Regions from separate parts of the Homo sapiens genome. Here all the other regions are linked to region 1. Evidence: fine-mapped expression QTL. A gene starts in region 1. Each other region holds a variant in brackets. All regions are shown on one strand. Distances are from middle to middle. Region 1 holds the start of CHI3L1 (chitinase 3 like 1). Region 2 holds the start of ADORA1 (adenosine A1 receptor). Region 3 overlaps CHIT1 (chitinase 1).

Region 1 (10,151 bases):
ATATCTTGGCAATGTCATAGCTGCTGTCAATGGTGACCTTCCCCGCAGACAGTGCTGCGCTGAGCAGGAGCTGCTTTTTCCCTGGCTGGGCTTCCTTTATAAATTCGGCCTTCATTTCCTAGATGGGAGACAGGCAGGTGAGAGAAAGGGTCCCAAGTGGCATGAGAGGTAGACTCATCGAGGGCGGACTAGGTCTCTGCGCAACCCATTTGCTGTACTCCCCAACCTGCCTGGGGCCTAGTGGAAGTGATAAAGTGGCTCATCAGTGGTCCCATCCTCAAGTCACCCATCCTTTTCCTAAAAAACTGACTAATCTTCTCCCCAAACCCATGCACACCCATCAGCACTCAATTACTCCCTGTCCTGGAGGGAGCATCGGACAGTGGGTGACCCCTATTGGCCCACAGATGACTTTGGGAGACATTTGCCTTTCGGTCTGTGCTTTGTTCTAGCTGGTGCATGAAATCCCAAAGTTAAAGTGATTGCTGCTGGTATTGTGAACAATTTGTTTAGACTCTCCTTCTGCCCCTGGTAACTGGAGATACTTAGGCTGCCCCCAGGCAGAGCTGAGAGCTGCTGGACACAGTGCATGCTGGGTATGGGTGGCATCAGTATGGGATTGAAGGGTGGGCAATGGGCAATGCACTAAGTGGGTAGTTATAAGTGGGTGCTCTGCTCAGTCACAACCTTCCACCTCTTAGAACCCCATTCCCACCTCCCACCATGGTCACAAGAAGCCTTCCTTGCTATGTGAGATCTTCAGGGCACAGGGTCCCAGGACACTGCCCTGAGGCTGAAGTCCCTCTTTACCTGTCCTCAGGAGGACAGCAGCTGACGCCGGCTTCTAGCCCACCCCATTCCCTCATGCCTGCCCACCTCCCTCCCTGTCCCTGACCTGACCAGCACCTTGATTAGGGTGGTAAAATGCTGTTTGTCTCTCCGTCCAGGGTAGAGCCAGGCAAGGTCCAGCCCATCAAAGCCATGGGTGCGCAGAAATGGCGGTACTGACTTGATGAAAGTCCGGCGACTCTGGGTGTTGGAGGCTATCTTGGAAAATCTAGGACCAAAATCAGCCCTGTAGCATGCTCAGCACTGATATGCTAGGTGCCTTGGGCCTCTGGTGGGGTTTCCAGGACCTGCAGAGCTGGGATCCTGAGGCCACACAGCTCTGGGAGGGCATGATTGGGACAGGGGTCGCCTCCAGGCATGCATGTGCCTTAGAGCCAGGCATTCCAGGTTTCCAAGTCTGGCTCTATCACTTACTAGCCAGCCACTGTGAAAGGTTATAACCTGAGTCTCAGTTTCATCATCTGTAAAATGGGGACAAATATAACAGCTCACCTTGCTGTTGTGAGGACAACATGGGATCATGGGGAGACAGGGTGCTGGACACAGAAAGAGTACCCAGCACATGGGTGCCAACGATGGCCATAACCACCCCCATTTCAAGCCCTGCTCCAACCCCACCTAATCCAAAGACTCCTCCCAGGGTCTCCCCACTTCTCAATGTCCCCATTGGTTTCCATCTCTCTCTTTCCAGCCCTAATGGTGGTAGCCCCAGAAGTCCCATATTTTCGGGCCTGTGAGGTAGTAAATAGAGCATTGGCAGGGAATTGGGAGATCCACTGTTAACTTGCTGTGTGACTCTTGGCAAGTCCTGCTCTCTCTCTGGGCTCTGCTTTCTTTGCTACACATCAGGCAGGCCCTTGACAAACAGGTAGGCCTTGTACCTATCTAGTCTGGAGCCCCTGGAACATCCATACAGTGGATGCGGGAGACCCAAGCTCCTCACTCCTATGCCATCATCCTCTGCCGTCCTGCCCCTGGGGAGAGGCTCCTACCTTTGAGACCCAAAGTTCCATCCTCCGACAGACAAGAGAGTCTTCAGGTTGGGGTTCCTGTGGAGCACAGGGAGGTGGGGAGGGCAGGAGTGGAATGACATTGTCATGACACTGGGTGGCCCCATGTCTGAGAGGCCATAGAAGGTTTCCTGCTTTGGGTGAGAGGCTGGGTTAGGCCGCTGATGTCCTCCCATAGGACATCATGGGAATCCCATAGAGATTCATAGTGGTGGATCTCTGAGGGGTCACAGGCTTCATGGGAGTTACTCTGAGGTCTGCTGCCCATTTTTGTTTTCCCCAGTGGAGAAGACAGAGTATGGCAAAGTAGAGTCTTGCTCATTTTCCATGCTCCCTGGAGAGCACGTTAGGGGCAGGAGAGGGTTCCCCTCTCCCAGAGGGGCTCAGCTGCGCTTCCGTCTACAGTCTCTCATCACCCCAAATATTGCCCAGCACCTACAGTCATCCCCTCCACCCATTTAAGCCAAGCCCCTCTAACTCTCCAAACATAGGTGAGCAGGGTGGGGCCTCGCCCTTCCTCCTGGGTGGGGTTGCCCTGCCCTGGGACCAGCCCAGCTGGTCCCTCCTCTCCTGGCCAGCCCTGGCCCAACCTGTTCTTGAGTGTGTTGAGCATGCCGTAGAGCGTCACATCATTCCACTCCCAGGTGTCGATGTGATCGTTGCTTATATTGGCAAAGCTGTAGATGATGTGGGTACAGAGGAAGCGGTCAAGGGCATCTGGGAAGCAGCTCCCATCGCCTTCCCGGTACTGGGACCAGCTGGTGTAGTAGCAGACCAGTTTGTATGCAGAGCCTGAAGGAGAAGTCTGGGATGGGGCCCGGGCCAGGATTCGGCAAGAGACCTCAGGCTGAGCCCAGAGCTGAGCACCAATGGGGTGTGGGGTTGGGTAGGGAGGAGTGGGGTGCAGATTGTGAGCAAAGTCAGAATTCTTAAATGAAAGGAGCTGGTTCAGGTCCCCCTGCCTCTGGGGAGTTCCCTGACTGGTGAAAATAAGGCCTATTCTGAAAATGCTTAGAAAAGATCCAATGCAGGGGATGAATACGCTACAGGCACTGTGTGGGGGAAGGGTAGGAGCTGGGGAATAAGGATGAAATGGGACTTGGTGCCAGCACAGCAGGCTTCCTGGAAGCAGTGGCTTTGTGGGAGGGGAAGGCCCAAGATAGCCTGTGTCACAGATGGCCCTGGCTTTCAGGCTGGCACCTTTAGTGACCTGCAGTGAGGTCCTTCATCCATGAGGGACTCTGGCCCACCTTTCTCTGCCTCCTGGTGAGAGTGCCTCTAACTTGTAACCCACCCGGAATGGCAGTCCTGTGCTCCCTCGGCATGTCCCCCAGGCTGGGGCACAATATCACAATGGACCAGGAAATCCTTCCTCGCCTCTAATTCTGTTTCTCCTGCTGCAAACAATGTGGGCATCACTCATCCAAGCAGCTACTGGGCAACTGTACTAGCGGCTCCCAGGGGCTGTTAGTCAAAGCCTTCACTGAACCAGGACCTTTTAAAGTTTCTTATTTTGAGAATTTTCACATATACCAAAGAGTATAGCAAAATAAACATCCATATACTCCTCACTCCAGTTTAGCAAACGTGACTATTTCGAAGTCATTGGAAGCACAGAAGAACCTGGCAAAGTGTTCCCTTGGAGCTAAGACCTCCTCCACACCTGCCCTGTGCCCTCGCCACGCCTCTGGACTTAAAAGTGGAGGTGGAGGGATTACTCACAGCACTGGAGCAGCACCAGGACCACAAAGCCTGAAGAGAAATCCAGGATGAGACCCCTGCAAGTGCATCCTGCCCTTCCGCCCTGCTCCCTCCCCCAAGCAACTGAGACCCACCTCCCCCACCCCCACCTCCTGGTTGCAGCCTCAGTCCCTCCCCTGGCTCTGCTTCTCCTCCCCCTCTGCCCACTCCCTTAGTCCCTCACCCAGCAGGCAGATGGCTCTGCGGGCTGTCTGGGCCTGAAAACCCACAACTCTGATGGATTAACCTTGGCTAGCCCAGATACCTGTTTGAGACGCCTTCACACCCATTCTGGCTGCAGCAGAGCAGGGCAGGGTGTGGCCTCTTCCCTTGCCCACGGCTCCTGGTGCCAGCTACCTAGACAGGGCCTCTTCCCCAGGCCCTGTACTTCCTTTATATACCTGTCCCACTCCACTCCCCGACGCGGCAAACCAGCCCTTTTATGGGAACTGAGCTATGTGTCAATGAAGGAATCACGAGGCTGGCAAGTGGAGGCGGGGGAGTACTATGGATTACCAGAGGAGGGTTGAGAAACCGCAGAGTTTTGAAAACTTTGGGTCAGGTCTTCATGAGGCACCTGCCAGCAGAAGAGCCACTAGGGTGATGATGGGGGGCTTCTGGAGATGTGACTCAGCCGCATTTCCCAGCCTTCCTCCCACTCCTGCACCCCACCACTGGCCTTTCTTGCCAGCAATTTCCTGGCTTTTCTGGCAGCCTCTACCTTTGCATCTTCAGCATTCACTCCAGGCCCCTGGCCAGGTGGAAACTGGGCACAATTTAGTTACGTAAGCCACAGTGCCCTAAACAAGGCTGTTGTTTTCTTCCCAGGCTCAGCATTGCCCTGCTTGACCTACCTTCCTACCCTCCCCCTCACACTTTCTGTCTTCAGGCTGGGTAAGGGCCAGAGAGCCTCGGGAGGAAGGAAAGCAAAGAGCCTGAAACTGAGCGCTCCCTTTTGGGCCCGTGTCTTTTTTTTTTTTTTTTTTTTTTTTTTTGCAATTTACATGCTGATTATTTAGAGGGAAAGACAGGGAAATTCCCAAGAATGCTTTAAGCCCCGGTGCTATTTTGCTTCTGTTTTGAAATTCCCATAAAGAGAGAGGATCTTTTGCAAGCTCGGTGCTGCAGTGAGGCACCATGGAGGAAATACAGGCCCTACGGGGCGGCTGCACGAGCATCTGACATCAGTCAGCTCCCCAACTCTCTCAGTGAGGCTTTGGAACCCAAGCCTGATGATACAGCCCCTCTCTAAATCCTTCAGTGATCTCTCATCACTCCTAGGACAAGAACAAAACTTCTTAACGAGGCTCCCTGCCTGATTACGTCCCTGTTTGTGGATACATTTTTTTTTTGGCCAAATATCCAGGACAACTCCATTCTTTGCAGGCTTAACATTAATTAATAGGCAGTGAGTGAAAAGTTCAGAACTCCAAGAGGCAGAATGGGTCCAAGGGCTTCTCAAGAAAGTACCTTTATTTTTCACTAATGTTAGGTAATACTCTAATTTTTCCAGGCTGGTTTTGCAGCTCTCTCGGTGAGGTCTCTCTGCTCTCTCCCTCTTCTCTCCCTCTCTCCCTTTCTCTTCCTTTAAAACTCAGCCAGTGCCTTCCCTTCATTGTAAGAGAGGTGGACAAAAAGTGGCTTGTCCAGAATCACGCTCGGTGAATACTAAAGAGGCATCACTTTTCCTTTTTAAGATGACTGCCTCCTTTTGTACCCAAGATGATTGACAGCAATGACAGTCAATGATAGCTTCTTCTGGTTCATTTGGGGCACTGAGAGGAGGACTTCTAATTTCTAATAGTGATATTATGAAGTGGCATGCAGATGCAAAATTTTTCATCACAGAGCACAGGATGTTAAGAAAACACCTCCTATTTTCACTATCTCCCTTTGTTAAAAATTATTTCATAGGCTTAGATTGGCCCAAGCCTTGTTGTCCTATGCTCCCTCAAGCTCAGTTTATTAATTCCACATGCTCTGCCTGAAGGCAGCTTTGTAACAACAAATGGCCAAGATACCCCCAGGCCTGTGTTAGCAGGATTGGCCAAGGGTCTCATAGGCTCACCACCTCCCAGCCTTATCTCAGGCCATGACCCCCACCCTCCCTATATTCCACTCATGCTTATATGTCTTCTTTTAAATCCTTATATTTGCTCTACTGACTCCCGCCACAGGGCCTTTATATATGACATCCACTTGCCTGTAAATAACGATGAAAGATCTGAGATTTTATGCTACTTGCAAATTAATGACATAACTACAGTTTCGTGGATGTTGGCAGAAGACACGAGACTCCTAGGTCAGAGACAAAGGACTTTATTATCCATGGTACAGCAAGCAGCATGAACTTCATGTTAGGGTCAGTTCCCCTTAGCCCTCAGGTCTCACAAGGGCAGTGTTGGAGGAGCCCAGGTAGATGCCATGAATGCAATGAGTTACATCACAGCAGAGGAATCCCTAGTTTAAGGAACTCAAATCTTTCATGATGAGCAGTAAGCCTTCCTCACCTTGGCCAGCCCAAGATAAGGGAGACATTATCTTTATTACTGGACAGTAAACAAATCTGCCTTTTGGTCTGGAGGGGGGACGCTATTTCTATCTTCCAAGGCTGTTTGCTGTACAAACATCACTAAAAAGATTGCCTAGAACAAAGAAGCCAGTGCCTCTGCACATAAGCTGTGCAGGAAATGCAGGCAACCCATGGAGAATTGCGGTTGGAGAATTGCGGATGGAGAATTGCAGCCTAACACTGCTCTTCTTTGACTGCTTTATTCTTCCTCATCCTTCAGATTGCAGCTCAGGAGTCACCTTGTCTGCAGAAAAGGCAGTCTCCAGGTGACAGAAAACCCGCTATAGGGCTGTCAGAGCACTTTGTACCTCTCTCCTTAACACCTGACTCAGTTATAATTTTATATGTTGTGTGTGGCAGTGGATGTTTTGTTTGCCTCTCTCACTAGACTATAAACTCAGTAAAGGCAACGGCTGGGTCATTTTATCCACCTTTGTATCTATCCCCAGTGCTTGAGACATAGTAGATGCTCAGTAAAGTACTCGTTGAATAAATGAACAAATGATCTCAAAATGGTGCATAACTTCACACTCTTATGAGTTTAAACCCTGATGTTCTCAAAATTTCATCTCATTCAATAGTTTTTGTTACCCTGTGAAGAACTGACTCAGGAGGTGCCATAAAACCACAAAACAAGCTTCCTGACTTAATTTCCCTAATCAAACATTTCTAGGCCCCACAGTACATTGATAGTGTTCAACCAATGTTTATTAAGTAAGTGTACTAGAGTAGTTGCCTTCCACTGAGGTAGACAGTAGAGACAGAAAGGTGAATGGGAACAGAGAGGCAGTCCCTGTCCTCATGAAGCATACAGTCTGGCAAAGAAGATGGACATTAAACAAAGAAAAGCAAGTAATGTATTACGAAGGAAGGGCAGGTGTTAGTCTGCCCCTTGCCCACCGTCCCCTACACACAAAAAAAATTGTGCAAAAACCTGGAGCAGGAAGAGGTTGTTATGTTCAGGAACCAGAAGAATTCAAGAGTGGTTGAGGCATGGAATTAGCAGGAGGGAGCTCGAGGGAGGCACAAGATGAGTCTGGATCAGGAGCCAGAGGGTGGACATTACCACCATTCAGAAAACAAGCTCCTGGGAGCCTGGGCTGGCCCCTTGGGCACAGTGGTTTTGAGGATTCCTTCATTTTGCATGGCGTGTCAGAGCAAACAGAGGTGGTGTTGATGCCCCACCAAATGCTTGAGGAGAATTCTCTCTTTTACAAGTAGTCTCTTCCTCCAGAGGGTGGACTTCTGCCAGGCAGGAATTCAAATCATCTCCAAATCCTCAGCTCGGTGGTGGTGCTGGCGCACAGTAGAAGCTGTCGAAGACTCAGAGGCAGAAACACTTAGAGAAGAAAACAGTTGCTTGTGAAAAGCGGAAGCGAGTCAGATTTCAGAATGGCTGGCTCGTCAAATGCAAAATGCAACAAGTATTTGAAGGGGAAAAAAAAATGACCCAAGGTTATCACGTTTGGTGGAGATCAGCATCATTTTTACAACACATCTTCACTTATCAGCATAGCAAAAATCAGGGATGAAATTGTTTTTTTCGGGGAATTTTTTTTCTTTTTGAGACAGAGTCTCACTCTGTCACCCAGGCTGGAGTGCAGTGGCGTGATCTGGGCTCACTGCAGCTTCGACCTTCTGGGCTCAAGCCATCCTCCTGCCTCAGCCTCCCAAAGTGTTGGGATCAATGGCGTGTGCAACCACACCCAGCTGGGAATCCAAATTTATGGGAAATAGCCAAGGCTTATTATTTTGGTGTCTTAAACCACTCAGGATAACCTATTATTCTTGGCTTATCTCCAGATGCAAATTATTCCCATCCCCACCCCGCAGTGGTACTTGGTCATGAATGAAGCCAGTAGAGTGAAGAGTTGGGCTTTGCGTCTACGGATTTTCCTTCCTTGTGGGCAAGTCCTTGCCATTGAGGCATGGGTTGAACCGTATATGTTGCTTAATAACTTCCTGATGCAGCATCATCAAATTGATATTTTGTTTTATTTGACCAAAATTTATTTCTATTGACATAACAGGAGGTGTTGATGAAATAAATACTTTCTTTTTGTATGGCTAGCGAAACCAGAGCCACATGATAGTGATGCTTTACAGTGAGCTTCTGTCTGGAGGCTTTGTAAAGCCCCTAGGGCTGGGAAGAAATTACTTTTATGTGTGAAGTATTATATCAGCACCATTTTCTCTAAGATTCCCATATGTGTTAATATTCCTAGACTGCCAGGAAATGTAGGTTTTATTTATTTATTTATTTATTTATTTATTTATTTATTTTACTACCTCTAAGGCTGCAATGTCATCAGTTCTAAAGCCATACCAGAGTTTTCTAGAGGACTTCATAGGTGTCATTTCCACATGTAAAATGTAGTCTTTATTCCTTAATAGTGGCTTATCATATAACAAAAATTCTTTGCTTGGCCAAATTTCAGGCGGGCTTCTGAATCTTCTCCTAGGCCCATCTGTGCACTTCCTTGTAAAATCCAGTTTTAGCAAAGAGCCCTGCTAAGTCAATTTAGCAAGAACCCCCTACCCTCAACATCTGAATACCTTGACATCTGACCAGGTTCCTTGTCCTTTATCATGCCCCAGGGGATGTCTGACCACCCTGGCCTGTCTGCAGCAAGAATCCTGTTAAGTCTGTTTAGCCAGAATCCCCCTTACTCCTGTTTCCTCTTAGTAACTTCTGTCTACAGACCCCCTGGTCCTTAGCTACTGATTTCCACTTGCCCATGCTGTATTTAGAGTTGAGCCCAATCTCTCCCCCCAACTGCAAGACCCCATTGCCCTGGTTCCTGTACCTGTCATAATGATCTTGGATAAAGACATCCTTACATACTTCAACAAGTGGCATTGGATAATTTTTTTCTTTAACACATACCTAATTAAATGGAATTTTGGCATGGTCAGTATCCAATTATTTTCTGGTAAGAAAAAGGACAGATTCTCATTGGATCTATATAAATAACATGATCATAAACATTCATTCTATCTAGAAGTGAATAAGCTATATTAATTTGGTTCCAATTTTCCCCCTCAAATGTATAACATAGGATATTTGATCATAAAAAGTAAAGGAACTTGTAAAAGCATGGGTAAGAGGAGAAAACATAAACTGTGCTTGTTCTGTTCTCTCACTCAACACAATGACCACCATCAACACAGGAGACTTCTGCCACCAAATGTGTGGGTCTCTCCCCATCACCAAGCAAGCATTTGCAATGGACACCAGCTGGGTGTCCTCCAGTTCAATTCTGATGCTCTCGGCCTGCAGAGAGCATCAGATCCCACAGGTTGAGGGCTCATTCCTACAAGACTGCCGCCCCTTCAGGCATCAACCACAAGTCTGGGCCTCTGGAACTTTTGACTGACCAGCTTCAAGTTGGGGTTCCCACATTCACCTCTTTAGGTTTAATTTGTTAGAGAGGTTCACAGAACTCAGGGAAACACATTTACCGGTGCATTATAAAAGATATTACAAAGTACACAGATGCTGAGATACACAGGGCGAGGTATGGGGAAGGGGCTTGGAGCGTCCATGCCCTCCTTGGGGGTGCCGCTCTCCAGGAACCTCCACATGCTCAGCTACCTGGAAGTGCTCTGTACCCAGTCATCGTGGGCCTTTATGGAGACTTCACTGGGTAGTCATGATTGACAACCATGTAGAAATGTGATTGGACAAGAAGGGTGTGGTCTAATACTAATAGACGCAATAGGGAAACCCAGCAAGGGCTGTCTGTTCAGATTCTTATTGGCCTCTATGCAGCATTCCTTCTTTCAGGGAACTGGGCAAGACTCTCTTTTGAAACAGGGGTCTTATGACCTACAATCCGACAAGGTAGGTCAGGGGATTTCTTTATGACCAGAGAAGGGGAAAGGTTAGAGTATATTTTTATTGTCTAAGGCCTGCTTCTGAGGCCTAAGACATCCCAACATTAAACACAAGATTGTTACAAGGGCTGCGGGAGTTATGA
Region 2 (10,151 bases), 65 kb before region 1:
AGGCTGCGGGACTGGGGTCTGGCCCTGCCCAGCTCCTCGCCCACGCCCAGGCTTCCGTTAGGCCAGCAGGGGGACCCCGAGCCCCGGACAACAGCCCTGAGCTGGGCGGCTGCTTCTGGCTCTAGATCCCGCTGCTCAGCCGATCCACCTTCCCCACCTCCCTCCCCCCAGCCTCAGTTTCCTCCTCTGAGAAATGGGAAAATGATTATACTTATTTCACCGGCAATGCTATGATAGTTAAATAATTCTAAACCATAAAGCGTTGTGAGACTTCCTTCTTGTACTCTTGAAGTGTATTATTTTGAACATTGAACATTCAGTCAATGTTTCTTGAGCTCTATGCCCCGGGAGCTATTTTAAGCCCTGGATGAAGTCTGTCCAACTCGGGCCGGGGATAGTGATTGAAATAGAAAAGCTCAGTAAGTGAAGGGCTCCTCTGTGTCTCCCACCCCACTTGACGAGCCAGATGGAGTGAGTGGCTTTTAACTGTAGAGTGGACCCCTCTAGCAAGCTGCTGTTTGCTTTTCTGGTGTGGAAGGTAGGACTTTGGGATGAGCCCACAGAGGACCAGGGAGCCCAGGCCATCCACTACCTCTTTATCCCGACCTGAGGAACGTGCACTTAGCGCAAATTCCCTTCCTTCCATGCCCAGTGCTCGCTGGTGACAGGGTTCAGGGCAGAGGGGGTGAGGCAGATCTGAAGGGAATGATTCTAGACTAGCACTTTGAGTTCTGCTTAACATCAGGGAGTTGGGGCCAGGATAAGACTGGAGCTGAGGGAATGGGCTGAAGCCGGAATCAGTGGCCAAGCCTCTGTGACCAGTTCTGATTCCTGAGTATAATGAGTGAATGCCTAGTGTTTCCACACCTGGCTTCCATCGCTGCTGGGAGGGGCTTCACTCAGAGAAATAACTATGAGAATGTGTACATGGTGGGCTCTCCTGCAGGCTCTCAGGGGACCCAGGGATACTGGCTGAGGACAGGGGCCATTTCATCCCAGTTAGCTTTTTACTGAGTGGAGCAAAAACTCGTTCCTTCCATGAAGCCTCTGGCTTCAGTCTCAGCCCTTACACCCCAGGACATGGTCCATGAAGCACCTAGTTAGGACTTCAGAAGGATGAGGTGATGGTTCACGTGGAAGATGTTGCTTTTCAGTTCCTTCTGTTTCGTTCCCTCAGTGGGCTGCAGACTCTCTGAGTGGGCTATTGTGATGAACTGGAAAGAACCTTGGAGTGGAAATCAGGAGGCCTGAGCTCACGTTTCAGCTCCAGCACTCAGTGGTTTCAGGCCTCTCCTTGAGCCTCAGTGTTTTAATCTGGCAAAGGGGAGCATAATAGCTTCCCACCCAGGTGGGGTGATGATACAGGGGATAAATGTGAGAAAGGGCCAGACATGTGTTCTGCCTTTTCTTCTGTCTGTATCTACCCTAGAAAAATGAAAACACATCCTCACACAAAAACCTGTACGTGGGCCAGGTGTGGTGGCTCACGCCTGTAATCCCAGCACTTTGGAAGGCTGAGGTGGGTGGATCACCTGAGGTCAGGAGTTTGAGGCCAGGCTGGCCAACATCGTGAAACCCCGTCTCTACTAGAAATACAAAAAATTAGCCAGGTGTGGTGGCTCACACCTGTAATCCCAGCTACTCAGGAGGCTCAGGCAGGAGAATCGCTTGAACCTGGGAGGCGGAGGTTGCAGTGAGCCGAGATCACACCATTGCACTCTAGCCTAGGCAACAAGAGTGAAACTTCGTCTCAAAAAAAAAATAAAATAAAAAAACATGTACACGAATGTTCATAGCAGCATTATTCACAATAACCTAAAAGTGGAAACAAGCTAAATGTCCATCAACTGAAGAACGGATAAACAAAATGTGGCTTGTCCACAGGATGGAATACTATTCAGCCTTAAAAAGGAATGAAGTATGGATACATGCCACAGTTCAGATGAACCTTGAAAACATTATGGTAAGTGAAAGAAGCCAGTCACAAAGGACCATGTATCCTATGTATCATATGATTCCATTTATATGAAATGTCCTGAATAGGCAAATCCATGGAGGCAGAAAGTAAATTAGTGGTTGCTAGGGATGGGTGGTGGAGGGAAGGGTTGGGAAGTGACTACTGATGGGTGCAAAGTTTTTTTGGAGGAAAGGTGATGAAAATGTTCTAAAATTAAATGATGGTGATGGTTGTACAATTCCATAAGTAACTCAAACCACTGAATTGTGCACCTTAAATGGGTGAACTTTATATTATGTAAATTGTATCTCAATAAAGCTGTTAAAAGTTTTTAATTGGGTGTCCTGAATTTAGTCTGGCAGCTTCACTTCTGCCCCTCCTTCCTTCTTTTCTCTAGTCTTGACAGCCTTCTTCTCCCTTTTGGAACATATAGAAGATAGTGGGGGTATTTGTCTTTCTTGAGGGACAAGGACACCTCTTGATGGGTGGGGAGGAATAAGGGAGCGATTAGGGAGTCAGATACCAGGCTGCCTCACCTCCAACAGATATCATCATCTCCCCTGCCTCAATTTCCCCTTCTGCCTAGTGAGGGGAGGGGAAACAGAGGATTGCTTGCCTTTGAACCCTTGGAGGTGCTGTCGGAGGAGTCCAGGAAGGTGGGGTGCATTTGCTGGCTGGGATGGGGTGGGCTGCACAGGACAGCATGAGCGCTTATGAGTCACATGGTGGATCTCCCAGACAGTGGTGGGGTGGCAGGCGGATTGCCCAGAGGCACCTCTTTGGCCGCAGACAGGGGCAGAGAAGCCAAGAAATCTGTGACTGGTGCCCCGTGGGCTAGGGTTAGGGGTAGGGGCTGGGCCACAGGCTGTCAGATGAAGAGGAGCTGGTGCTGGGAGAAGGCTGAGTCTTTAATGGAGCTGCAGCATGGCTGGCCAACTGCTGGCCTTGTGTCAGGTGGGGGGGTGGAGGGGCTTCAGGGAAGGGCTGGGTTGGGGTTGAAGACCTGGGAGCCTCTCCTTAGGACCCAGTGGCAGTGGGGGAGGGCTTGGAGCTGGTGAAGAGCTAGATACTTCCAGGTCTGGGGACATCCAGAGCTCTGTGCCCAGCCAGCTGTCATTAACTGCTTAGCTCCTTGGGGTCTGTGCTCAGCTTCGTTTCCCTCTGATTCATCTCTTCCTTGCCACTGCTTCCCTCCCTCAGACTGTAAGCATGCTCAGAGCTCCCCATCTAAAACCAACCTCTTTTTGACCCCTCTCTCCTGCAGCTCACCATCCATCTTTTGTTCTCATCCCTGCCAAGTTCTTTCAAACTAGACTCATCTGCACCCACGGCCTCTACCTTGCTTACCTGCTGCAGCGTCAACCTTTGAGAGGCACTCCTACTCCCCCATCCCCTGAAGCTTCTTTGAGGTCTCCACACCCTTCTTTTCATGAAATCCACCACATCCCCCTCAGACCTATCATAGCTGCCCTTCAGCCCTCAGCCCCGAACCACTCAGCACCCCTGCTTCCTGAAATGTCTGGTAGCCTGCTCCTCCCCTTTGGCTGCCCTCCCTCTTGATTACTGTGGGCACAGCCCAGCTTCTCCACAGCCTATTCTCTGCATCCTCTCCTGGGTGGCCTCATCTCTCCCAGGGCCTTGACTGTCACCTCCATTGCGATGACCCAGCTCCAGCTCCGATCACCCTTTGGCCATTTCCAGAAGGCTGCTGGACCCCTCCCATGGGCACAGCCAGCCCAACCTGTCCAGGAGTGGACTTCGTATCCCATCCCCCATCCCCCCAACCAGCCTGTCCGTCAAATCTCCCTCATCCTCCTCAGCATTTCCCTGGGAACTCAGCTTGAAATAGAGTCATCTTTGCCTCCTCAGTCCCCCAGCCACTATGCCCGGAAGTCCTCCCACGAGACATCTTTCCTGTCCATCTTCATCTCTGTTCCCACTGCTTCCTCTTAGGTTTAACTTTT[C/T]GTCATCTTTGACCATGATTGCTTCCTGGCAGTTCTGCCTGCTCTCACCCTCTCCTCCTCCCCTCTGCACAGCGTCTTGGATGATCTTCCTATAGCATCTTTCAGGTCCTTCAGAAAATCCTCAAAAATCCTCAAAAGCTTCCCATTATCAACAGAGTAGACTGTATATTTGTGTAGTGATCTACAATCTAAAAAGCACTTTCACATAAAGTCAAAGAGGTAATGTTATTCTTCTTCTTTTATGGATAAGAGAACTGAGGCTCAGGGAGGTATGGGGAGTGGTCAGGCTTCACCCAGTGCTACAGAGCAGATCTGGGACTGGGGCTGAGGCCTTCTGTGGGTGAGGCCTTTCAGTGGGTGCATCGCCCACTACAGTCCTCTCAGTCTGCCCTGGGGACCTCAGCAATGTAGCCCCTAGTTGTCACCCTGCTGCCCAGCCTGGATCCAGTGCCCCTGCTTAGCCCCTGGTCTTGCCCAGAACACACTGGGCAGTTTCCCATGCCCCTTGCTCAGGCTGCTCATTCACTTTCTGCCCACAAAGTCCTCCTCCAGGCCACTAGCCCATCTCTGCAAGCACAAAGCATCCGGTGCCTCCTTCAAGGCCCAGGCTATGTGTTGCTTTCTCCAGAATCCTTCCCAGCCCCTGCCAGCAAGGGAGTATGCTCCTCCCTTGTCTGGGACCCCTGGAACACACCACCAGGAGCTCCAGCTGATTCTGAGCAGGGATTGACACAGCCGGGCCTCCAGTCCCCATGCTTGCAGCTCTTGGGGGGTGTCTTCATAATAGGCCCTTCACAAATGCCAAAGAAACAAATGGTGGATGGGGCTGCCCAAGATTCTCCTCCTTGAGGAGGCCCTTTCAGACCAATTGGCCCAGCAGTTCCAATCACCTCCCGAGCGTCACATACACCTTCATGGGTAAAATGCATCACACGGCTGGGTGCAGTGGCTCACACCTGTAATCCCAGCACTTTGGGAGGCCGAGGCGGGCAGATCACGAGGTTAGCAGTTTGAGACCAGCCTGACCAACATGGTGAAAACCCTTCTTTCCTAAAAATGCAAAAATTAGCTGGACATGGTGGCAGGCGCCTGTAATCCCAGCTACTTGGGAGGCTGAGGCAGGAGAATCACTTGAACTCAGGAGGCAGAGGTTGCAGTGAGCTGAGATCGCGTCACTGCACTCCACCTTGGGTGGCAGAGTGAGACTCTGTCTCAAACAAACAAAACAAAACAATCAAACAAACAAACAAAAAGCCACACATCAAACCTGGCTCAGTCCTCGGACGGTCCAGGTTCTAGTGTTAGCTCTGCCATGTGGCTTCCCTTGAACCTCTCTCATCTGTGACCAGGGACTAATAACACCTGCTTTGCTATCTCCCTGGTGTATAGTGAGCATTCAATGGGATACTGTCTGTGAGAATTTCTGTATTTTTATTATACCAAGAAGAATGAGCTTGAAGGGAATTCTTTTATAAACACTAAACTTTTGTGCACCCGTGAGGGGCTTTTATAATTATATACAGGTGTGTCCACCTAACACTGCCTCCCTCTGCTGTAAGGTGGCGAGGGTGTGAAAGCCCAGAACCCTCACTTCATCAAGTTCTAAGATTAAAGGGCTGATGCTTGAGGGATTCTCAAGGGATTCCCTGAAGGGTAGGTGGGACCAGGGCTCAAAATGATGCTCACCTCCAGGACCCTCCTGGGTACCAAGCCCTGCCCCTCACTGCTGGATGGGTATGGCTAAGTTCATTCCTTCTCTGGGTCTCAGTTTCCTTATCTGGAGAGGTTGGATTGAAGCTCAGATGTTCACTTGTTTTTTTTTTAAGAGCCACAATGTTCAAAGAAAGTCTTATACCAGGAACCCATACATGAAATAACCAGAGCTGCTTCATCTAAAACAGGGTGGCTCCCTGAGCCCCCAAGACCTGACCCTCCTTCCCAGCCTTGGAGGTCCCGAGGCTCCTCTGTGGAGCCCTAAGGGGTCCTCAGTGTATCAAGACCCAGGAAACATGTTCTGATTCTCACTGGAGGGATTGTGTATTGGGGCCCTTCATGCCTTCCTTACCTGAGTGTGAACTCTCTCTGGAGCCTGCAGGAGAGACTATGGCTTTTTTATGCCTCTACCCACGATGCTCAGCTCACTGTCTGATACACAAAAGGGGCTCAAGAAATGTTTACCCAACAGAATAAATGAATGAATGATGATGAGATTAGGAAAGAAATGCGAAGGACAACCTTGCTTTAGGAGGTAGGAACAGTTCCATGCTGTCTGGAGGAACGGGAACTAGATGGCCTTGACCTACCCCATGCCTCCCCACCGCCTCACAAACACACAGGGAAACACGCAGCCTGTGTTCTTCCCGTGGGCCCAGTATCTGGCACAGAGAAGCCCTGACTGGGAAGAAGTGAGCTGGAAGGAGGGAGGGAGAAGGAGGCAGAGACCCAGGGTGCAAATCTGAGCAGAAGGAGGGTGGTAGAAAAGGAGAGGAAGGGAACTTCCAGGAAGTCACTGCAGGGGCAGACAGGCATGGTTATGGGCCCCTTGGGGGAAGGGCTAAGGGCTTTCCTGACACCCAGAAATCTTTTTGTCCCAAATGCCTGCTCTTATCCAACAGTTCTCCTCCTTGTGCACACACTGGCCAGAGCAATGCTGAAAAAACAAGACAGGGACCAAAATATCCTTCTGCCTGCTGGAAAGGACAGAGAAAAATTCTGAAACCCCCTCCAATCCCCAAGCTCTCCCCACAGGGCTGAGCCAAGCCTTAACAGCCAGTACTCCTTGCCTTCCTTCCTGGGCTCTGGAGGGGTGTGCTGGGATACTTCAGCCTCCTTGGGCAGCCCTTTCTGACCTGAGGAGTATAGCCCAATTTGGAGAGTTCCAGGGAGAAAAGAGCAGGGCTGCTCAGCAAGGTTCCCCTCACCCAGGAGTGCTTCCCCTTCAGCCCTCCCTCTTCCCCACCCACCTCTGCCCACAGTGGGGAGGCTGCAGGTGCAAGGGGCCAGTGGAGAAACCCAGGACAGGGGCTTAGGAAGAAAAGAAGTAGGATCAAGCGGTAAAAGGACCACAGGCGATCTTTACATTTACTGTGGCATTATCTCACCCCCTGAGTCACATGGAAAATAGAAGCTTTGCATTGGGCATCTTGGAGGGCACCTAAACTTGGTACCTGTGGGATTTGGTACCAACATTAGCATCCCTGGCTGTGCAGGGCAGATTTCATAATTTTGCATTCTCTTTCCCTTTCCACCCCCACGCTTCACTGGCCTGGTGCTGCCTACTTGCCTTTTTGATAAAATATCAGTGCTGGACGCTTTCCAAAAGCCAGCTCATTATGTTCTCATAACCATCCTACACCGAGGGGTATTCCTACACTGCTGTTACAGGTGGGGAAACCAAGGCTCAGCTTTTGAAGGCAGGTGAAGCTTGGAGGGTTGCATGGCTGCAGTGTGTGAGGGGACCCTGGTGTGGGGAGGGTCATCTTGTCTAAGGGTCCTGGACACACTGTGAAAGCCAGAGAGTTTTGACTCAGGATACATTCCAGACACCTTGGCTCCATCTGTTCTGCCTACAGCCTCCCTCATTGTCCTTTCCTCGTTATAGATCTGTGACCTTGCCTCTTCCTCTACTCGCCTCCATCACAAACTTCCCCTTCTCTCAGCCCTGCTCTCTGTGCCTCACAGGGGAGCTGGGAGTTAGAAGACTTCCAGGGGGAAGGACCAAGTTCTGTGGTCTCCATCTCAGCCCATCTCTCGCACCTTGGAATGGACTTACCAGCTGTTGGTGTAGGATGGGTAAACTGAGGCCAGGAGAGGAAAAGTGGCCTGCTTGAGGTCACGCAGCCAGTGAGTGGCAGAGTAGAGCCTAGAAGCCAGCTTCCAGCTCTTCTGACTCTCGGTCAAGTGCTCTTTTCACCGCACCAAATGACCCTGCTGCCCAGGAGATCTCAGCACCGACCCTCCTACCTCCGTGTCAAGCCAGAGGACTGAGGAGACCGTGTGCTTCCCCCAAGGCAGCTTTCTGGAATAGACCCTGCCTTGGCCAGTTCTGTTGTCAAATAGGCTGGTCTAATCCCTGAGGCTGGGAACAGGCAGGGGTGGAAGGATGGAGAAGATAAGGGAAGAAGATTTTGGCTTATTTTGCCCAGAACTGAGAAACAAATTACCTACAGGCATTATGCAAATGCATCCACTACATGTCAGCAACCTGTGGTAAGATGAATCGGAGGTGGGAGTGTATGTGTATGGGAGGTGGTGGTGGGTGCTCAGTTGCCCTCCAGAGCTGAAGATGCTGTCAATAGTTAGACAGGGTGACCCCACTCACCCATCCCCGTCCCCAAGCTGGGCCCATCTGGGTCTTCACAGTCTCTTCTGACATCTAGTTGAGTGACCATTGGGAAGCTGAGTGTAAACTGAGAGAGAAAGCCTTGAGCCAAAAATGGCTTAAGTCAAGCAAAGGGTGGAGAGGCAGGGGATGGTCGCAAAGGCCTGCATGTCTGGGTGGCAGGGGGAGTAGGCAGGACGTCAGGTGCTGTTGGGCGTGTTGACAAAGTCAGCAGGGGAAGTGCAAGGGGACGAGGAGGAAGGAGAGTTTACACTTCCTAATTTCTCCAACTAGCTTCTAGGGAAGGAATGTAATTTTGCTGTCTGAGGCACTGATTCCTTGCTCCCCCTAAAGGCAGAAATGGAAGTTATTTTTCCCCACAGAGGGCTTCCCCCTCCTCCTCAGAAGACTCAACTGCCCTTCCTCCCTGCCTCCCAGCTACCCAGGTTCCGGGTCCCACATCATTCCTCACTGTGATTCAGTGCAGCCCCCAATGGGAGCAACGTGCCCACCCTCCTCTGGGCAGAACCCTTTTCCTTGCATTCTGAGATCCAGTGAGGGGGGCAGTACCCCCAGAGGCCAGGTTGGGTTGTGGCTAGCTAACATTGGGGTCCCCAGCCTGACTCTCTTTGCCTTCCTAGAACCCTTGCCCAATACCCACAAACAAGGATTTCTCAGGTTGGGATCTCTGCGAGGCATCCATCCATGTCCAGGGTCTGGTCATTAGTTAATATCAGTGGACTGCCTAAACCGAAACTGGCAGAAGGTGGCCAGGGGAGGGGTCTGGACCCAGTGGAGAGAGTCAGGAGCCTGGGATTCTTATTTTGGTCCTGTTAGGATTTGCCCTGTGACCCTCCGGAAGTCCCTTGCTTCCCTGAGCCTGCTTCTTTATCTGTAACATGAGGGGATTGGACTGGATGCCTTATGGCTTAGCGCTGTGCTATGAAGAGGAAGAAGGAGGAAGGAAAAGGAGCGCAGAGCGGGTTACACTGCCAGGAGATCCTGGGAAGCTAGGTCACTTCCCTGAGCCTCAGCATCCTTATCTGCAAAATAGAAATTGCTAATAGACTAAAAGGCAATTCTGAAAGATGGATGAGAAAGGAATATAATGACTCAGGGTAGAGCCTGCAAAACAATATGGGATGAGAAGATGCAGGGACTGGTTTCATGGAGAGAGCAGGGTTTTAGGATTGGGGGAGGGTGCCAGGGCTACCGACTGCTTTGGGAGATCCCAGAGGGGGCATTCTGAAGTCCTGCAGAAGAGATGCTGTGCCGTGAGGGGTGAGGGGTCGCTGGAGGCCAGACCAGGGCTCCCAGGAGTCCTGCATTGAGAAGGGAGAGAGTGGACACAGGAAGGATGCGCCTCTGTCCAGTCCTGAGGCTGGGCGCACACACCAGGCCCTTCGAAAAGCTCACATTTTTTCCAGCTTTTCTCACCCAGTATCACTTCCTTTGTTAAGAGGAGGGGGTGGGGGAGGAGACGGAGGATGAGGAGGGAGGGGCTGGCGGGTGCCGCCGCCGCCCCCGCCCCCTCCCGGTGTGCGGAGCCCGATTGTCACTCAGCTCCTGCGCCGGGGGCGACAGAGCCGCAGGCGCCCGAGTCGAGTCCCAGCCAGCTACCATCCCTCTGGAGCTTACCGGCCGGCCTTGGCTTCCCCAGGAATCCCTGGAGCTAGCGGCTGCTGAAGGCGTCGAGGTGTGGGGGCACTTGGACAGAACAGTCAGGCAGCCGGGAGCTCTGCCAGCTTTGGTGACCTTGGGTAAGTCTGAGTCTCGGTTCACCCCTGGGGCTCCCCAATGGGGGTGCAGGAGAGGGTTGAAAGAAGAGACCGGAATGCCCCCTTGGGGCAGGCCATGGGCAAGGTTCCCCGACAGAGCTGGAACGGGACCAGAGGACTGCTAAGATCCA
Region 3 (10,151 bases), 29 kb after region 1:
TGCTGGGATTACAGGCGTGAGCCACTGCACCAACTGGGTTGATCTTTTGACCCTTGGTGCTAAGCTGATCCTGGAGACCCCCCACCAACAGTCCCACCAGCTGGAAACACCATGAGGGCAGGGTTCATTTCTGCATTTCCCTTAGGCCCTAGCACAGCTCCTGCCACATGGCAAGTGCTCAGGCAATGCTTATTGTTTTAAGCATCATTAAGATTTCATACTTAGGTAAACCATAAAATCAGATATTGTAGAGGACAAGAGCTGAGGCATGAAGGAGGGTGCACTGGGGAGAGCAACCAAAGACATGGGTGGGCCTGGGTCAGGCCCTGACTCCACTGCCGGCTTGACTTGGACACCGTGGTTTCTGCACCTGTGATCCCATGGGATTGACAGCAGAGATAAATGGACCTGAATATTAGTGTATGGCTGGACACAGAAGAAGTGCCCAATACTCATAACCTCTGAGGTCTAGACACCAAATAGCAGGGTAAGGAGATAAAAGAAATACATATGATTTTAACCTGGGGGAGGAAAGACAGCAGTGTTCTAGAAAGCAAACCTGGGCTCTGGGTCTCATCTAGACTGGCATCTAAATTGCAGTTTTAGGCCAGGCGTGGTGGCTCACGCCTGTAATCCCAGCACTTTGGGAAGCTGAGGTGGGCAGATCACTTGAGGTCAGGAGTTCGAGACCAGCCTGGCCAACATAGTGAAACCCCATCTCTACTAAAAATACCAAAAAATTTAGCTGGGTGTGGTGACATGCGCCTTTAATCCCAGCTACTTGGGAGGCTGAGGGACGAGAATCACTTGAACCCAGGAGACGGAGGCTGCAGTGAGCCAAGATTGCACCACTGCACTCCAGCCTGGGTGACAGAGTGACTCTGTCTCAATAATTAATTAATCAGCTAATTAATTGCAGCTTTGCCACATACTGCTTGTGTAACCCAAGGGAAACAGAAAATGACACGTCCTTTGCAGGGGTACCGTGAGGATTAAACGACACAGGTTAATTCACTTACTATTCATTCAGTAACTATTTATTGGATGTCTAATACATGCTTAGTATGGTCTCTGGTCATGCAACGAATGTTAATTCCCCTGTCTCTTTGAAGGAAGGACTAATGGCTGGACACTAATATTAAAAGAGTCAGTGGTATTCAATAGAAGGGCTTGGGAGAGTAGTGCTCTTGTCATGAAATAGCACTTCAGTCTGGAAATCCTCTAAGTGATTTCTGCACCTGAGGGTAAAAGAAGAAAAAAAGTCAGAAATTACATGGTTCAATATTTACTGAGCCTCAAACATGTGTCATGATTGGAGAGGACCACTTAAGACATTGTGCTTGACCTTAGGAGCTCGGAACCTAGGGGAGGAGTCTAACATCCACACAGATCACGGTGGCAGCATATGTCAGTGTGGTGGCCCAGTGGTCTAGTGTGGCAGGGAGGCAGTCACTGATGTCCAGGGCACCCGAGGATGTTTCCTGCAAGAGTAACCCAGGAGCTGACTGTCTCAGGGTGACTGGCAGTGGCCCGGTGGGGAAAGGAGGGATGGCACAGGCAGAAGTGAAGCACAGGTGGAGATGCGCTGGAGGAAGGCATGGCTTGTTTGGAGACTCCCGATGGTCCCCTGGGATACAGGTCACCACACTGGATATGGGACACCAAGGGTGCTTTCCTAGCAGCAACCTGGGGCAGAGGAGAGGGAGGATGTTGTACTGGACCATGCACGTGGACCATGCACTGGGCATAAGGGCATGACAGAGGCTGGGGCAGTCACCAAAGGTTGACTCTGAAGGTACAGTCCACAGGTTGGGGCAGTGGCCGGGAGCCCTAACCTCAGTCGGTATTAACTAAAAGGCCACCAGGCAAGTGGGGATTGAGGTGACAGTTGACATAAAGGATAGGGGAGCAGTCATTGCTCTGGAGGACTTGTCCATGGGGCCATGATCACCGCCATCAGACTAAGGGCCTACACGAGGCACCTGTGCCAGGGGAGAAATGGGGCCAAGGCAGGGCCTCTTGGGGACATTTAGAAGAGGGGACCAAGGCAGGACCATGTCCTATAAGCTGGGTTAACAAAGGCAGCCAGGGAAGAATTGCACCCAGATTTACCCCTGAGGACTGTGGATCTCAAAAGTGCATGGGCAAATCTTCCTTTGACTTGGGATCTCATCTCAAATGTGGCCTCTACTGAGCCTTCTGTGACCACACTGTGCACAGCAGTCCCCTCACCGCCATCCTTCACTCTCTAGCCATATCTTGTTTCCTTTCAGCACTCATTATTGCCTGGAAAGGTCTTATGTGCACGTTTGTTCACTGTCTGCCTCCCCCAACAGAATGTTAGCCTCAGGAAAGTAAAGCCCCGGCTCTTGTCCCTGCTGTGTCCAGCTGGACACCAGGCCTGCATGGACACTTGGTGTGTGCTGAGAAACTCAGCAGCAGCAGGAAGACTCCAGCCACATGGGGCTTCAAGGCCAAGGTGGAGTCAAAGGAGACAATCTGGCTGGGAACAATGGCTTACACCTGTAATCCCAACAGTTTGGGAGGCCAAGGCAGGAGGATCACTTGAGCCCAGGAGTTGGAGACCAGCCTGTGTAACATGACAAAACCCTGCCTCTACATAAAATACAAAATTTAGCAGGGCATGGTGGTGTGTACCTGTAGTCCCAGCTACCTGGGAGGCTGAGGTGGGAGGATCAGCTGAGCCCAGGAGGTCAAGGCTGCAGTGAGCTGTGATCGTGCCTCTGCACTCCAGCCTGGGTGACAGAGAGAGACCTTGTCTCAAGCAAACAACAGCAACCCCGTCTCTACTAAAAATACAAAAATTAGCCTGGTGTGGTGGCAGGTGCCTGTAGTCCCAGCTCCTCGGGAGGCTGAAGCAGGAGAATCGCTTGAGCCCAGGAGGTGGAGGTTGTAGTAAGCCGAGATCACGCCACTGCACTCCAACCTGGGCAACAGAGCGAGACTCTGTCTCAAAAAAAAAGAAAAAAACCAAAACCCAAAAAACAAAAACCAAACAAACAAACAAAAAACAAAACAAAACAAAAACAAACAAAAAGAGATAATCTGAACACAAATAGCTTTTCGAGAACTCTCATTGTTTCTGTCCTAGACAGGATTCATTCAGAAAATGGCGTGGGCCTGAGCTAGCCGGGTGACAGAGGGCTGTGGGAGTCCCACATGAGGAGCTGGCATGATGGTTGAGGTTAATGCTGACATCAGGGGTACCCAGCAACTGAACTGGGGTGGGGACGGCAGGAGAAGTGACCGGAGAAGACACGAGGGCCTGATAAAGTGTCTCAACCCTGTGCTGATGGGTGGGGACTTTCTCCTTTGGGCAGGGGAAGCCTGTCACTTCCCTTGCTTAGTTTTTAAGCAGGGGAACTGACAGGCTTAGATCTCTATTTTAGAAAGATTAAACTGGTTGCGATGTGGTGGCTGACTGGAAGAGGGGGTGGGCAGGAAGCAGGGAGGCCAGATAGAAGGTGGGTCCAGATATGAGATGATGCTGGTTCTAGCTGAGGGAGTGGCCATGAGTTTGTAGAGGAGCAGGGTGGATGTGAAGACCAGAGAGAGGCTGTGGCTAATGCTTTCCTGAGGGTAACAGTAGTGCAGGTGTAAGACTGCGTACTCAGGGAGGACTTTGGTTATTTGGATGCTTGTAGGAGGGCGCATTCTGCTAAAAGGAGACTACAGTTTTTGCTAAATCCTTGACAAACCCAGCTCACAGAAGTTGAAGAAAGGGCTGAGAAGGGAAGAGGGAGGGAGGGAATGAGCACTGATCATAGGGCAGGCGTGCACGACTTCACTGACTCCTCACATTTCTTCCATCCTACAGCAGAGGACTGAGGCTCTGCTTCTTTGCCTGAAGTCACACAGCTGGAGTGCAGCACGCCAGAAGTCACCCCTGCACCTGGACTCCACTCCTAACAGCTCGTTGGGATGTGGTTGGTGTATCCCTCAATTGAGACCTCAGGGGGCGGAGCACGTGCTCAAGCAGCTTGTGCTCTGGACTGAGGAGAGCAGGTTTCAAAATGCCCATGGACAGGCAGGCTGCCGGAGTGACGGGGACACTGTTCCTGCGCTCTGGTGCTGGGTTGACTCACATGGGGGGCCAAGCTGCCTCCCCCTCATCTCACCTGTCCCAGTCCCCAGCTGCCTTCCCAAGTCCCAACCAGAAACCAGCTTGGAGTGAATAACAGGCTGGACCATTAGGCTTTGTGCAGATTTTCTTCAAACAGAATGACCAAGGTGCAGCCCAAAGCAGCCAGGAATGTTGGGATGACTTTATTTAACCAGGACACCGTGTGCATGCTCTCTGGCCCATTTCAGGCCTTGGTTCTGGACTCAGAATTGGTTAGAATCAGTCTTCAGTTTAAATGCCTATAAAGTGAGAATAATCATTGTTCCTTCTTCATCTGGTGAACGGGGGCAGTAGGTGAGATAGGGCCTGCAAAGGGCCCAAACAGGATTTATCTCGAAGACCCCTGAGTACCAGGGGTCTGAATTCTTAGTGTAATGCTGAGTGGCTGCTCGCAGAGCGCTTAAATCAGGGAAAAGTTCTTCTCTGCTGCCATCTAGTGGCATTTTGGGAATAACACGTGCGTGAAGGTCCGCAGAAGCTCCTGTTTCCAGGCTTCTGAGCCAATAACCAAAGAACGTGTTGCACTTGGGGCCGCGCTCTGGCTGCCATCACCTGTGTACTGGAAACTGCCCACTGGCATATGGACTCATGGGGCAAGACCTGCCACAGGGCCTGGCACATCCTGCACGGACCACCTTCCCACCTGGCTCTGACCTGCGGATGTTTTGGAGTCAACAGTGTGCTTAGAGAGCCTCTTAAGTCACCACATCTTTGGGAAGAGGGGCACAAACCAAAGATTTATTTTGCAAGTGAAAGGGGCAGCCCAGGAGACCCAGAAAAAAGGAAGGCAAGGCTGAGAGCAGAAAGCCTGGATAAAGGAAGACCACAGAAAGGCCTGCAGGAGCCAGATTGCGGCCCCCAGGGAAAACCCAGGAGGCAGGCTGTAGAGTGATCCTGGGCCCAGCCTCAAAGCTGGGACTGGAGGGGCTTTAGCGACTCAATTCCAGGTGCAGCATTTGCAGGAGTTGCTGAACACCAGGCCTGTCGGGCAGCTTTGCTGGAACAGCCGCCCCGCTGCACAGCTGTAGAAGCTGGACCGTTCCCGAGGATTGGGATAGAGCCCATCAGCTTTGCCCTGGCAGAACGTGTCTTGTCCAGGGCTGGGGCCATGCTCAGGTTCAGAGGGCTGACCTGGTTTTGGAACTTCAAGCTCTGGGGTGCCTGAAGGCAAGTATGGAAGACCTGGGAAGACAGTGAAGATTCAACCAAGGCTCCCCCGAAGAGATCCCAAACCCACAGGCAGAGCACACAGGCAGCAACCATTGGCTGGCAGCAGCCCAGCACCACATGCCCTACAGGCTGAGTACAGCCAGATACCCCAGGCAGAGAACAGCCAGACAACAGCCATACCTACAGCTGAAGCACAGTGCCACAGGCAACACCTGGCCTCACATGTGACAGGCAGTTAAGGCTTTACCCATCTGCAAGCACAACCATATACTGCTGAGGGCAGGTGGGGGTGCCACGCTGCAGGCTAAGGGGAGGCTTTCTCCCAGGTAAGAGAGGAACAAGGTGCTGCTCCCAGTCTGGGGGCCCTCTGGAGGGAAGCCACGGTTACAACAACCCTGGGCAGGCATTGCTACAAC[C/G]AGGAAGAGAAAGACCGCAAAAAGGAAAATTGTTTTGACAGTTTCCTTAGCTCCTGCGGGTACATGAAGCTTGGGAAATTACAGTATTGGGGCAAAGTCATTTCCTCAGAAGGACCCGGGACCTACAGTTCATTGGATGCATGGAGCTGTGTTTGTACCCCACCTCCAAATTCCACCACTGGCCCTGGGCCCCTTACTTACTCAGTTCCTGCCGTAGCGTCTGGATGAGGGGGTATCGGCCCTGGTTGCAGGAGAAGCCGGCAAAGTCATCTAAGTCCAGTGCCCAGACCATGGCCCCGCCCAGTCCCTTCTGCTTCAGATAGCTGACCTGTGCAGGGAGGGGATGCAGTGGAGGAGCCCGGGGAAGCCTGACCCGGCCACCCCAGAGCCTGGCTACCTCTTCTGGACAGGGCCCTTTTTGCTCCAGCAGCCTCAGGCCTGTGAGTGGCTGTAGATTCTGGAGACAGCCTTGGGCTGGGAGCCTGGATGCTGAGTCCTCATGCTGCTTGGACATCAGTCATTTTGCAGTCTCCTTGTCTTAACGTAAGCATGACCTGGGGTGGGGTGGGTGCAGTCGGGAGGAATAGTGTCAGTTGTGTGCACCTCCCTAAGTGGGAACCCTTCACCGCTTGGTCATGTGTGGGCTGAGCTGCTTTATTTAAGGGTATTGTATGCTGGTCAAGGTCAAGGTCAAGGTAAGTCCAGTTACCATAGGGAACAACTCAGATTTCCAAAAGATCTCAATCAAGGCTTGCTTCTCTGTCTTCATGTCTTTGTCTTCCCTGAGAGCCATCTTCCCTCCACCAGATTCCTGAGGCTTCCTGAGGGTATGACTGTGTGTTCCCTCAGAGTGGGATTCTCTGTCCTCTAACCCTGCCAGGGGGCCATGGTGCTTGATCCCTTGCTGGCCCCAGCCTCCCTTTCAGCTAGCTCCCTTCCTCTACCTGCCCTGCTTGGGGGTCCAGCTATGTGGGCCTACACTTTGTTTTCAGAGTCCAGCCTTTACTTTCTCTGCACCCGCGTCTTTGCTTGTGCAGTTGCCCGCTCCCTCACCCCTAAGAATGGCCACCTTCTATGCTTTAGGACTTATCTGAAATACCCTTCCACCGTGACCCCTTCTCCCATCTCCCCAGCCAGGATCGTGCCCCCCTGCAATTGTCCACCTCTAGAAGCTGCCGCTGTCAGCCACACATGATAGTTGATGTGGGATGTACAGATAAACTAGTGAAGCATCCGTCTTCAGGAGCTAACAGTTTCACAGGGGAAAATGGCATGAAACCAGGTAAATGCACCAATATTGGGCAGGAGAAGGGGGTCCTATAAGTAAAGCAAAAGGTCTGTAATTTGGACATGCACCAGATATTGCCAATGGGCTGAAGAAAGCTATATGTCTCACCATGTGTATTTCTCCTCTTCATATGTCTGTAGAATTTGTATGGTATTTAATAAAATAGAAATACTTTCCAGAGTGCTACTAAATGTAGAGCAATTTTTTGTCATTTTGTCTTTTCTGAGTCAATAGGTAGTAAAGGTACAAAATACTATCACGTGGAGATTTATGAAATGTTGGGACATTTAAAGGAGACTCACCCTTGAGGTCCTGAACTGTCCTCATTCCATGTCATTGACAGGACTTGTTCACTAGGACCACCCCTCTGCCAGCAGAGCTGGGCCTCACCTTGGTTTTGAAGCTCTCCACATCATCAAAGCCCACCCACTGGTTGTCCCGGAAGATGTAGGGCACCTTCTGATCCTGGATTCTCTGTTTGGTGGCCCCCTTCCAGGAGCAGACCTGTGGGAGCAGAAGGCAGCACTGGGGAGGAGGAGGGAGGCTCTTGCAGGCACCTTCCCTTCCTCACCAGGAGGAGACTAGAGATTGGAAAATTCCTGTCTGAGGAAGCCTGGAGAATCAGGAGGTTCTTTGCAGTGACCTAGAATTCTGGACTCAGCTTGAGGCACCTGGGCTTAAGGATAAATTCAAGATGGCATGGATGAGATGGAATTTACATGGCCAGAATTCTCTGCAATTGGCATCCTTACTCAGAAACGGTGGGAGAAGGAAACCTCTGTTCTCTCAGGCACCCCCTGACCCTCACAATACCCAGGGTGGTTATGGGTTTTCCTACTTCATAGTAGGCCAGCATCCCTCCTTCCTTGGTGAAGGGGCCTGGAGTGCCAGACCCTGTGGCTGGGGCCCCCACTCTGGTGTCTGATGAGGAGGCCAGTGTGAAGGAGCGTCCGTAGGTAGGCATGCCAAGGATCAGCTTGCTGGCAGGGGTCCCCTTCTGCAGCCACTGTTGCACAGCAGCATCCTGGTGGAAGAGGGCAGGGTTAATTTTCTCAGCCCTCAGCCTGGTTCTGATTATCTAAGTCTGGGGGATCCAGAGGCAGAGCTAGGAGGGCAGGGGCTCCTCAGCTGGAGCTCTACGGGCCTTTGTTAGGATTCCAGCCCTACCCCATCTTCTTTAGAGCCTGCCTTAGACCCGTGACCCCAGTGAAGAAGCTGCATGGCATGATAACCAGAGAGCGTGGGCTTCGGACGCAGACAACCATTCACTGAACAAATGTGTACTGATGGCCCACTGTGTGCCAGGCGCTGTCCATGGTGCTTCAGACACATCAGTGAACAAGGCAGACACAGATCCCTGCCTTACCCAGCAGCTTATTTAACCTCACTGAACCTTGGTGTTCTGTCTGTAACATGGAAATAAGGAAAATATCCATCTCTTAGGGCATTGTGAGAATTAAAGGTTATAATGCATGTAAAAGGTCAGCACAACGCAATAAAGGGTCGCTGTGGTCATCATCGTTATCATGATTGTTGTCTTAGTTTTACCCTGAGTACAAAAGCAGGGAATTGGGTCTGCTTTATTTATCTCTGTATCCTCAGTGTCTAGAATGACACCTGATGCTCAGATAGAACAAAGGCTTCCTTACCCACCTTTGAATAAGGCCTTCCCCTGATTATATATTACTTGGTGTAACACCCCCAGGCCTGTGACGGGAGAAGGTACCCGGTACAAGTATGATAAATTAATGAATAATGAAGCCTCATTCCTTAAGCCAAGAGTATGGTTCACTTTCCCCCAGAAGCTGCCCTAGTTTTGTCAGGTCTAGTTACTCTGAGCCCACTTAGCACTTAGGTAAAGAACAGCTTTCACTACATTTATTTAAATATATTTCTTTTTGTCCATCTATACAACTTATCTTTGATCAGATGGGTGCTTTCTGAAGGCAGAAGTCGGGGCTTCTCCTGATCTGTTATAGCACTTTTGTGCAAGTTGGGAAAAGTCACCCATCTGGTTAGAACCTGTCCCCGGGCACACTGTGTGGTGAGTAGAAGGCCTCTTTGTAGGAATAAGATGGCCTCCATTCCTCGGTGGATTCAAGGTACACAATGTGGAAAGCAGGGTGCTGGAGGGACTCCCACCCCACTCACCTCTCAGCTAAATTTCTTTCTGTGTCTCCCCACCAGCACAGGGATACAGCTTCCTCCAAAACTCACACAGTCTTCCAGACAGGGATGGAGAGGCCAGGCTCAGTGTGAAATGTGGGTGCCTGGCTCACTGGCTCAAAGAGGTGCTCTTTATTCATGAAAGAGCCAGAAAATCAAAGATGTCCCACTCCAGCTGACATACAGAGATGTGGGCTCTCCAAAAGTAAAAAGCATTTTAATTTAGGGCTTTTTCTTTGTTGTTTGGTTTTGCTTGTTTTAAGAAAGAAAAATAATGTAGTTATTATAAGCCCTCTCTGCAGGGTTTTATAAACCCTCTCTATATTTTAAGATATATAGAGGGCTTATAAAAAGGATCTAGGCTGGGCATGTTGGCTTGTGCCTATAATTCCAACACTTTGGGAGGCTGAGCCAGGAGGATTGATTGAGGGCAGGAGTTTGAGACCATCCTGGGCAATATAGCAAGACTCCATCTCTACAAACTTAAAAAAAATTAGCTGGTCATAGTGATCCCAGTTACTCAGGAGGCTGGGGCAGGAGGATCGCTTAAGCCTGGGAGGATGAAGCTGCAGTGAGCTATGATCATGCCACTGCATACCCTCCTTGGTGACAGAACAAGATTCTGTCTCTTAAGAATAAATATATAAAATTAAAAAAAATTAAAAGTGTCTTGATTGCTCAATGAGGAAAAGTTAGGAAACCCCAACCTACCCTAGTCTAAAAACCAAGCCTGCCCTTTGCAGGTGCTGGGAGTACTTCCACCCTGAGTGACATCTGCAGAGATGTTATCAACTTGGGAAAGCTCCTGTCCCTGAAAGGACCTTCCAGAAGGTCAACCAGTGTGACCATGGAGCACAAGTCTGCCCACTGTCTTGAAGGAAATGGGGTGGGGGTGTGTGAGGGAAGCAGCAGGCCTGCTGGCTGGAGACTCAAGCTCAAAGTGGGCTTCCCCATTGGTCACTTGTTT

Evidence for each region. PIP is the estimated chance that this variant, and not a neighbour inherited with it, causes the effect.
Region 2: its variant is fine-mapped to the expression of CHI3L1 in whole blood (TOPMed, PIP above 0.99).
Region 3: its variant is fine-mapped to the expression of CHI3L1 in whole blood (TOPMed, PIP above 0.99).

What each region holds. Positions count from the first base shown.
Region 1 is chr1:203,182,735-203,192,885 of GRCh38, forward strand. CHI3L1 (chitinase 3 like 1) reads right to left here and starts at 3,970. Exons shown (of 10, transcript NM_001276.4): 1 at 3,865-3,970; 2 at 3,582-3,611; 3 at 2,450-2,651; 4 at 1,842-1,898; 5 at 907-1,057; 6 at 1-118. The coding sequence starts at 3,889.
Region 2 is chr1:203,117,927-203,128,077 of GRCh38, forward strand. ADORA1 (adenosine A1 receptor) reads left to right here and starts at 9,800. Exons shown (of 4, transcript NM_000674.3): 1 at 9,800-10,002. RefSeq lists an enhancer at 9,524-10,151. The variant C/T (reference allele first, on the strand shown) is at 3,922.
Region 3 is chr1:203,211,808-203,221,958 of GRCh38, forward strand. It overlaps CHIT1 (chitinase 1), which reads right to left. Exons shown (of 11, transcript NM_003465.3): 8 at 7,857-8,042; 9 at 7,409-7,522; 10 at 5,932-6,058; 11 at 4,272-5,326. The coding sequence ends at 5,082. LOC124904485 (a long non-coding RNA gene) reads right to left here and starts at 1,680. Exons shown (of 2, transcript XR_007066797.1): 1 at 1,346-1,680; 2 at 1,016-1,238. RefSeq lists enhancers at 3,525-4,281, 4,282-5,037, 5,038-5,793. The variant C/G (reference allele first, on the strand shown) is at 5,731.